Homo sapiens: one gene and its partner. The protein of the gene in region 1 purifies or fractionates together with the protein of each later gene. This does not show direct contact. Each region holds a gene or a part of one and is shown on either strand. Other genes may lie near its edges.

Evidence for each region.
Region 2: the proteins of HELZ (region 1) and ARID3B purify together in Homo sapiens (affinity purification with mass spectrometry, with the first as the bait; one large-scale study listed by BioGRID). This does not show direct contact.

Annotation. Positions count from the first base shown.
Region 1 is NC_000017.11:67,105,697-67,109,196, reverse strand, and holds part of HELZ (probable helicase with zinc finger domain), read left to right. Parts: coding exon 1-81; intron 82-470; coding exon 471-705; intron 706-1,511; coding exon 1,512-2,028; intron 2,029-3,500. UniProt on the Homo sapiens protein: May act as a helicase that plays a role in RNA metabolism in multiple tissues and organs within the developing embryo.
Region 2 is NC_000015.10:74,572,220-74,575,719, forward strand, and holds part of ARID3B (AT-rich interactive domain-containing protein 3B), read left to right. Parts: intron 1-642; coding exon 643-714; intron 715-912; coding exon 913-985; intron 986-3,500. UniProt on the Homo sapiens protein: Transcription factor which may be involved in neuroblastoma growth and malignant transformation. Favors nuclear targeting of ARID3A.

The DNA.
Region 1 (3,500 bases):
AACCCGGCCCCATTCTTCCTTCACATCTGAATAGCTTCATTGATGAGAACCCCTCGGGATTACCTATAGGGGAGGCTTTAGGTAAGTTCTATTACTGCCAGATGTGAAAATTCAGAGATTACTTAACATGACTTGGACTGTATAATATCATTTTGGGTTAAGATTGAATTGTTTCTTCAAATAATGCTAGCAAAACCCCCCCATTTAGTGTGATAATCAGAAACTAGTTCTAAATGCTGTATGATAGTATCCAGTGGATGTCAGGATCATCATTATGTAAGTGAGGAAGAGTTGTCATCATCATCACCATAACTGATTTCTGGCAAATTTAGAAAACATTTACTTCTTACCAAAACCAAATTTGTAGCTACGTCCTTTGTCTTTGTGGAGAAAATATGTTAGTAAAAAACTTTAAATAATGAACTTGAAACCCCAAATTCATAAAAAATTTTTCACAAATATTTTTGCAGATCGTATACATGGGAGTGTCGCTCTGGAAACATTAAGGCAGCAGCAGGCACGGTTCCAGCAGTGGAGCGAGCATCATGCCTTTCTCAGTCAGGGCAGCGCTCCATACCCACACCATCACCATCCTCACCTCCAGCATCTTCCTCAGCCGCCCCTGGGATTACATCAGCCGCCAGTGAGGGCAGACTGGAAGCTCACCAGCAGTGCCGAAGATGAAGTGGAGACCACATACTCAAGGTATTCCAGCGGACTGAAAATAGCCCCTGGAATGCGACCCCCTCACTGTTCTCTTTTTTGACTGTAGTCCTTTTAGCTTCAAGCTGGAATATTGCCTCAGAGAAATTGGATGCTGGCCTTCCAAGCACACGCTACACAGTTCTCTTGTTGACTCTAAAATACAGAAAACTCATTTAGAAGTAACTCTTCTACAAATTTAGGCATGGATGATCTACTATGGGTTGGAAATTAACTTGTTCCCTTACTTTGTGGTCTTTTCTGCGAGAGAAACATACCATCACTGTGAGCAGCTTTTTTTATTTAGTAGTAATACTTGCAAAGAATGAATAAAGACAGGAGTAAATTCGTGGTTAAAAGCTAAAAATTATATCATTAATTATTTTTATGGTGGCACAGAATTCTACATTCCTATAATTCCAGCTACATATGAGTATTTGGTCCTAACTCTAAGCTTGTTTTTGTGGCCAGTGTCACATGAATGCTCTGAAGTGTTTCCTAATCCCTTCTGAATAAGGTCCACCATCATGGTGACCTTTTATAACTTCCAGTTGTCAAAGCTGTATAGAGACAAGGACAGATGTTTTTAATACAATGGGAACAGAAAGAAATCAGGTAATTGAGCATATTTAATTTCTTCACCTCAGCATCTATTGAGTGTTAATGCTTACATCTGAGATGAATTAATGCCAGTTCTAGTTATTAGTACTATGATTTTGTTTGTTGAAAATACATGTGTAGTTGACTAAGCTTTCCTTAATGTGATGGAGCCTTTTGTTTTCTCCTCATATTTTATTGTTTTCATGTAGGTTTCAAGACTTAATCAGAGAACTGTCTCATCGTGATCAAAGTGAAACACGGGAACTAGCTGAAATGCCACCACCTCAATCAAGACTTTTGCAATATAGACAAGTACAGAGTAGAAGCCCACCAGCAGTCCCATCTCCCCCATCCAGTACAGACCACAGTAGCCACTTTTCTAACTTTAATGATAACAGCAGAGACATTGAAGTAGCCAGCAACCCAGCATTTCCACAGCGCCTCCCACCCCAGATATTCAACTCACCTTTCTCGTTGCCATCTGAACACCTTGCCCCTCCTCCCTTGAAATACCTGGCACCTGATGGAGCATGGACTTTTGCTAACTTGCAACAGAATCACCTAATGGGGCCAGGTTTTCCCTATGGCCTACCTCCATTGCCTCACAGGCCACCGCAGAACCCTTTTGTACAAATACAGAATCATCAACATGCTATTGGTCAAGAGCCATTTCACCCATTGTCATCTCGAACAGTATCTTCTTCTTCGCTCCCTAGCTTAGAAGAGGTAAATGTCTTCTTATTTTCCTTTTGTTATTAGCTGATTGTGAAAAATATCAGTATTTATTGATTTGATAATAGGAAGGCACAGATCTTATTGAATTTAACAGCGTATTAAAGATAATCCTTTCTTGGGAATTATTTTAATTGCCACCCTCCTATTGTATTTCAGGTTTTGTAAAGTGGACACTTTTGTTGAAACATGAAGCCCCTTAAAAGTCTTTTATTGCTGTTTAAAGAAAATATTGAATATCTGAGGACTCTATTCAAGGAGCTTTGTCTTTTTTTAATCTGAGGAAATGGCTTTTAGTGATTCTTCTTTTCGCTTTAAGTTACATGTGTTAATTATAAATTTGTTAATGAGAACTTTCCAAAGATGCTGGCTTTTCAGCCAGTGCCAGCTCCAAGTGCTGTGCTCCTTCTCCTGCCACTCAGCCTGGTGCTTTGTTAGACCCAGGGACTCTGATTCCCAAATATCAGAATTTGCAGATTTTTAACATAAAATTGACTGTGCTAAACTAAGCATTTTAAGTTAAACTGAATTTTATCTTAAAATACTTAGATATTTCTGCCGGGTGCAGTGGCTCACGCTTGTAATCCCAGCACTTGGGGAGGCCGAGGCGGGCAGATCACGAGGTCAGGAGATCGAGACCATCCTGGCTAACACGGTGAAACCCCGTCTCTACTAAAAATAGAAAAAATTAGCTGGGCGTGGTGGCGGGCGCCTGTAGTCCCAGCTACTCGGGAGGCTGAGGCAGGAGAATGGCGTGAACCCGGGAGGCTGAGCTTGCAGTGAGCCAAGATATGCCACTGCACTCCAGCGTGGGCGACAGAGCAAGACTCTGTCTCAAAAAAAAAAATAAATAAATAAAGTAAAATACTTAGATATTTCTAAAGAGCATCTTTATGGACTTTTTTTTCCTATGAAAAACTTAGTAATTCCAGGTTATAAAACTTCCAAAGCAGTACCATGTGGTGTAGGCTACAAAAATGTCTAGCTGATCCCATTAAATTTGCAGTGATTAAAGATAAAAATGTGTAAAGCCGGTTGTAGTCATATCAGACAGAGACATCTTAAATCAGGATAAAGATTTCTAATTTTGATATATGAAAAATACTTTTTTGATATTAGCTTCATTTTGGCAGTTTCAGAATGATATCTAAAGGCCATTAGAAATAATTGATTCACATTTTACAAGTTGCCTGCTATAGATGCTAATTAAAAGTCAAGATTCATAGGGAAAGCTGTATGTCTTATTTGTAGGGATTTAGAGGCAGTCTGTTCAAATTGTCCCAGTATTCATTGATTGGCTCATTCTGTATAGCTGTCATTAAAACAACTTACTGTGATTTTAGGCTCTTAAAGTAAGTTAGAAGCACAATAAAGATGAATTGGTATCTACATATATGTATTGTGAGGATCTAGAATTTTGGAACCATACTTTACAAAAATTTGGCACACATCTGACAGTCTTTCAG
Region 2 (3,500 bases), on another chromosome or scaffold:
AATTAAGTTGGGCTTAGATTTTCACTGTTTCTCTAATAAAAATGAACTCTCGCCCTAGTGGCACAGAGTCTGTACCTTGGAAACAATCTCAGGCCATGGTGGCCCTCATATCACCATGAGTTCTTGCCATGCGGCTTAGGGTTTTGAATGGTGAGGCTTGACTAAGAGACCAACTTCAGGATGTATGTCCTGCTCGCTTTGACCCTTATCACTTACAGTGTTGTATAGGAAACCAGGCAAGGTGTCTTCCCAGTCTGCAGGAAAGTGGTGCATCTCAGAGTGATGGCTTCTGGCGATCAGCCGGGAATGAGCCCCTTCTAAGCAACGTGGGCCTTTGTGTCCTCCTCTTCCAGGATTATCAAGTATAAATGACACCCACGACACCTACCCTTCTCCAACAAATGGAGATGATTCTTCCACCCGATTCCCTCTTTATTTTGGAACCAAATCAAAAGCCAAAAAAAAAAAAGATGTCCCTGTAAGGGTGGCAGAATTAGTCTTCTGAGTTGTCTTTTATAGTATGAGTGAGGATAGCACAATTGCTAAGCATCTTCATCTTTGCCCTAAATGATTGCCTTGCCCTCTGTCCTAACTCTTTCTCTTCCTTTGCCCCTCTCAACTTTGTGTTTTGTTCCCTTTTAGAATGGTGGTTTGGCCTGGAGTGATGATGCAGATGGAGGCCGGGGAAGAGAGATCTCTCGAGATTTTGCCAAGGTCTGTAATACTTCCTTTGTGATACAGATAGGGGCAGTTCTGCAGTGGCTTGTTACAGCTGATTCCCAAGAAATAAGGACCAAGGTAGCCAGTGAGTTGCATTTGTAGTGATTCAGATGGTCATAGTATATCTGGTATAAGACTTCAGCAAGATGGAATTTTTCACTGTGTGTTTTTCTTGGGGGATTGGGATTGCAGCTGTATGAACTGGACGGTGATCCTGAAAGGAAAGAGTTCCTGGATGACCTCTTCGTCTTTATGCAGAAGAGGGGTGAGTGTGCATCTACTCATCATTCCAATTCAGGGAATACTGATAGAGTGCCTACTGTGTGCTAGTCACTGTTAGACATCCTGGCCCACTAATCCTCATCCAGGAGGAGAAGAGGCATTTACTGCCAGTTGGTTCTGGATTTAGCCAATTAACCGATAGCCAGATTGAAGAGGACAGAGAAGGTGTTGGCACAAAGTAGATGGAATGATCGTCCACTTTTGGCCCTGCCTGATTTTGTCTCTTCTTCCAATTGACTGGTCTCTGGAGTCACTTCAAATTCAAATATGCCTTTTTTAAGCCTTAAAGCTACCCTGGACTTCACTTAATCTAGCATGTGGGCCTTCTTGTTGGCATATCTAGTCTCATGGAGAAAGGTAAGTGAAAGAAAAGAGGCCCCTCAGGATATTTTGGAAGGGTCTGAAATGATCCATGGAAAGAAAAGGCCAACACTTTCTTCTTACCCATTGGCTTTCGATGTTTGTATTTGCTGGCTTGGTTAGAACATTCCTGCAGTTTAATAGTCAGGTACATAGGCATCTGCCTTTTTTTTTTTTTGAGATGGAGTCTCGCTCTGTTGCCCAGGCTGGAGTGCCATGGTGTGATCTCAGCTCACTGCAACCTCTGCCTCCCGTGTTCAGGCAATTCTCATGCCTCAGCCTCCCAAGTAGCTGGGACTACAGGCGCGTACCACCACACCTGGCTAATTTTTGTATTTCTTTTTTCAGTAGAGTTGGGGTTTCACCATGTTGGCCAGGCTGGTCTCAAAATCCAGACCTCAAGTGATCCACCTGCCTTGACCTCCCAAAGTACTGGGATTACAGGCATGAGCCACCGCGCCCAGCCGGCATCTGCTTTATAATGCACCCTCCCAATTCTCTTTCCTTCTCTCCTCACTCTGCACATCCCCAAGAGCCATCTTCACTGTAGACTATGGTGTGACTGAGTTTAGAGCTGAGTGACTCAACTTCCTGGCTTTGTATTCAGTCATAGCAATGGGTTCACCAGCCAGGTCAGCCCTCAGAACACATGGCCAGCACCCCAGCCTCTCTAGGAGAAGGCCTTCAGCAACCTGTGTGGCTCCACCTTCGTCACCCTCAGGACAAAACCATAGGAGAGAGCTACTCCCAGTAGCCTGCTCCCAGCATCCTGTTATAGCTGATCATGCATCCCTTGGTGCCTGTGTCAACAACTTTATTGAGACCTAAGAATGAAATCTTCCTCTTTATCCTGGGCCAAGCTGTAATGGCAGCCCCCAGCAGCTAAATATTCTAAGTTAACTTCTCTCTCTCTCTATTTCCCTCCTTCCTCCCTACTCCTTTACCTTTGGCAGCCTTATTGCCTTCTTGGTGTAGCCTGCCTGTTACTGTTGGTTTGCGTAAAAAAGGCAATCGAAAGTTTTGAATCTTGGTTTTCCCCAGTCTCTAAGCCCATCAAAGCAATCTGAGCAGCCTTAATTAGTTTGCTCCTCCAGCTGTTACCTGGAACTGCATGTGTCAGTAAAAAACAATATAATCCTGAGGCTGGGCGCGGTGGCTCCTGCCTGTAATCCCAGCACTTTGGGAGGCCAAGGTGGGTGGATCAGGATGTCAAGAGGTCGAGACCATCCTGGCCAACATGGTGAAACCCGTCTCTACTAAAAATACAAAAATTAGCTGGGCATGGTAGCGCGTGCCTGTAGTTCCAGCTACTCAGGAGGCTGAGGCAGGAGAATTGCTTGAACTCGGGAGATGGAGGTTGCAGTGAGCCAAGATTTCACCACTGCCCTCCATCCTGGCGACAGAGCGAGACTCCATCTCAAAAAAAAAAAAAAAAAAAGAATATAATCCTGAAAGATAATGTGACTGGCAGCAATGAACCTCCCCGTTTGCCCTGAGAGAGAAATCCACTTAATACTTTGGTCTCCCCTTCCAATTACCTTTTAATTATTTACAAGCTCCACAAGCCCAGCTGGTGCAAACCCAGGAGCTGATCCTGTCTCAAAGGGGCTGCCATAGCAATATAGATTTTAATCAGCAGTGGAGCTCCACTGCTTTATTTTCCACTTTATTGTTTTTCTCCCTTCCCTGAAGGATTTTTAAAGGAAAATGGAAGTGAGATCAGCCAAGCCGATTGTGAAGATCAGTAATTGTTTACTACTATATGTCCCCACTAGACTAGGAGCTCCTCAAGGAGGGCCACTTTGTCATTCTTTCATGTCCCCAGTGCTAGCACAGGGCCAGGCAGGAAGGTGCTCAGGACATGTTTGCTGTGTGAGCAGTCTTGTTGGTTTTCCTGGCTCAGATTGCAACATGCAGGGTATTCAAGCTGCCTTGAGGTTTGGGTGCATCTGTGTCCTTCAGCCAGCTGCCCCGTAATTGAGAGTCAGCAGTAGAGAACAGTCTTTGCTGCATATCCTGCTGTTCTGTGGCAACTGGGACTGCCAGATTGCCATCTAGTATATTTCTGAGTGAACCCAAAGCAGGAGTGAGTGACTCCCTTTGATAATGTCACTTTATGATTCTTCAGGTCCTGAGTA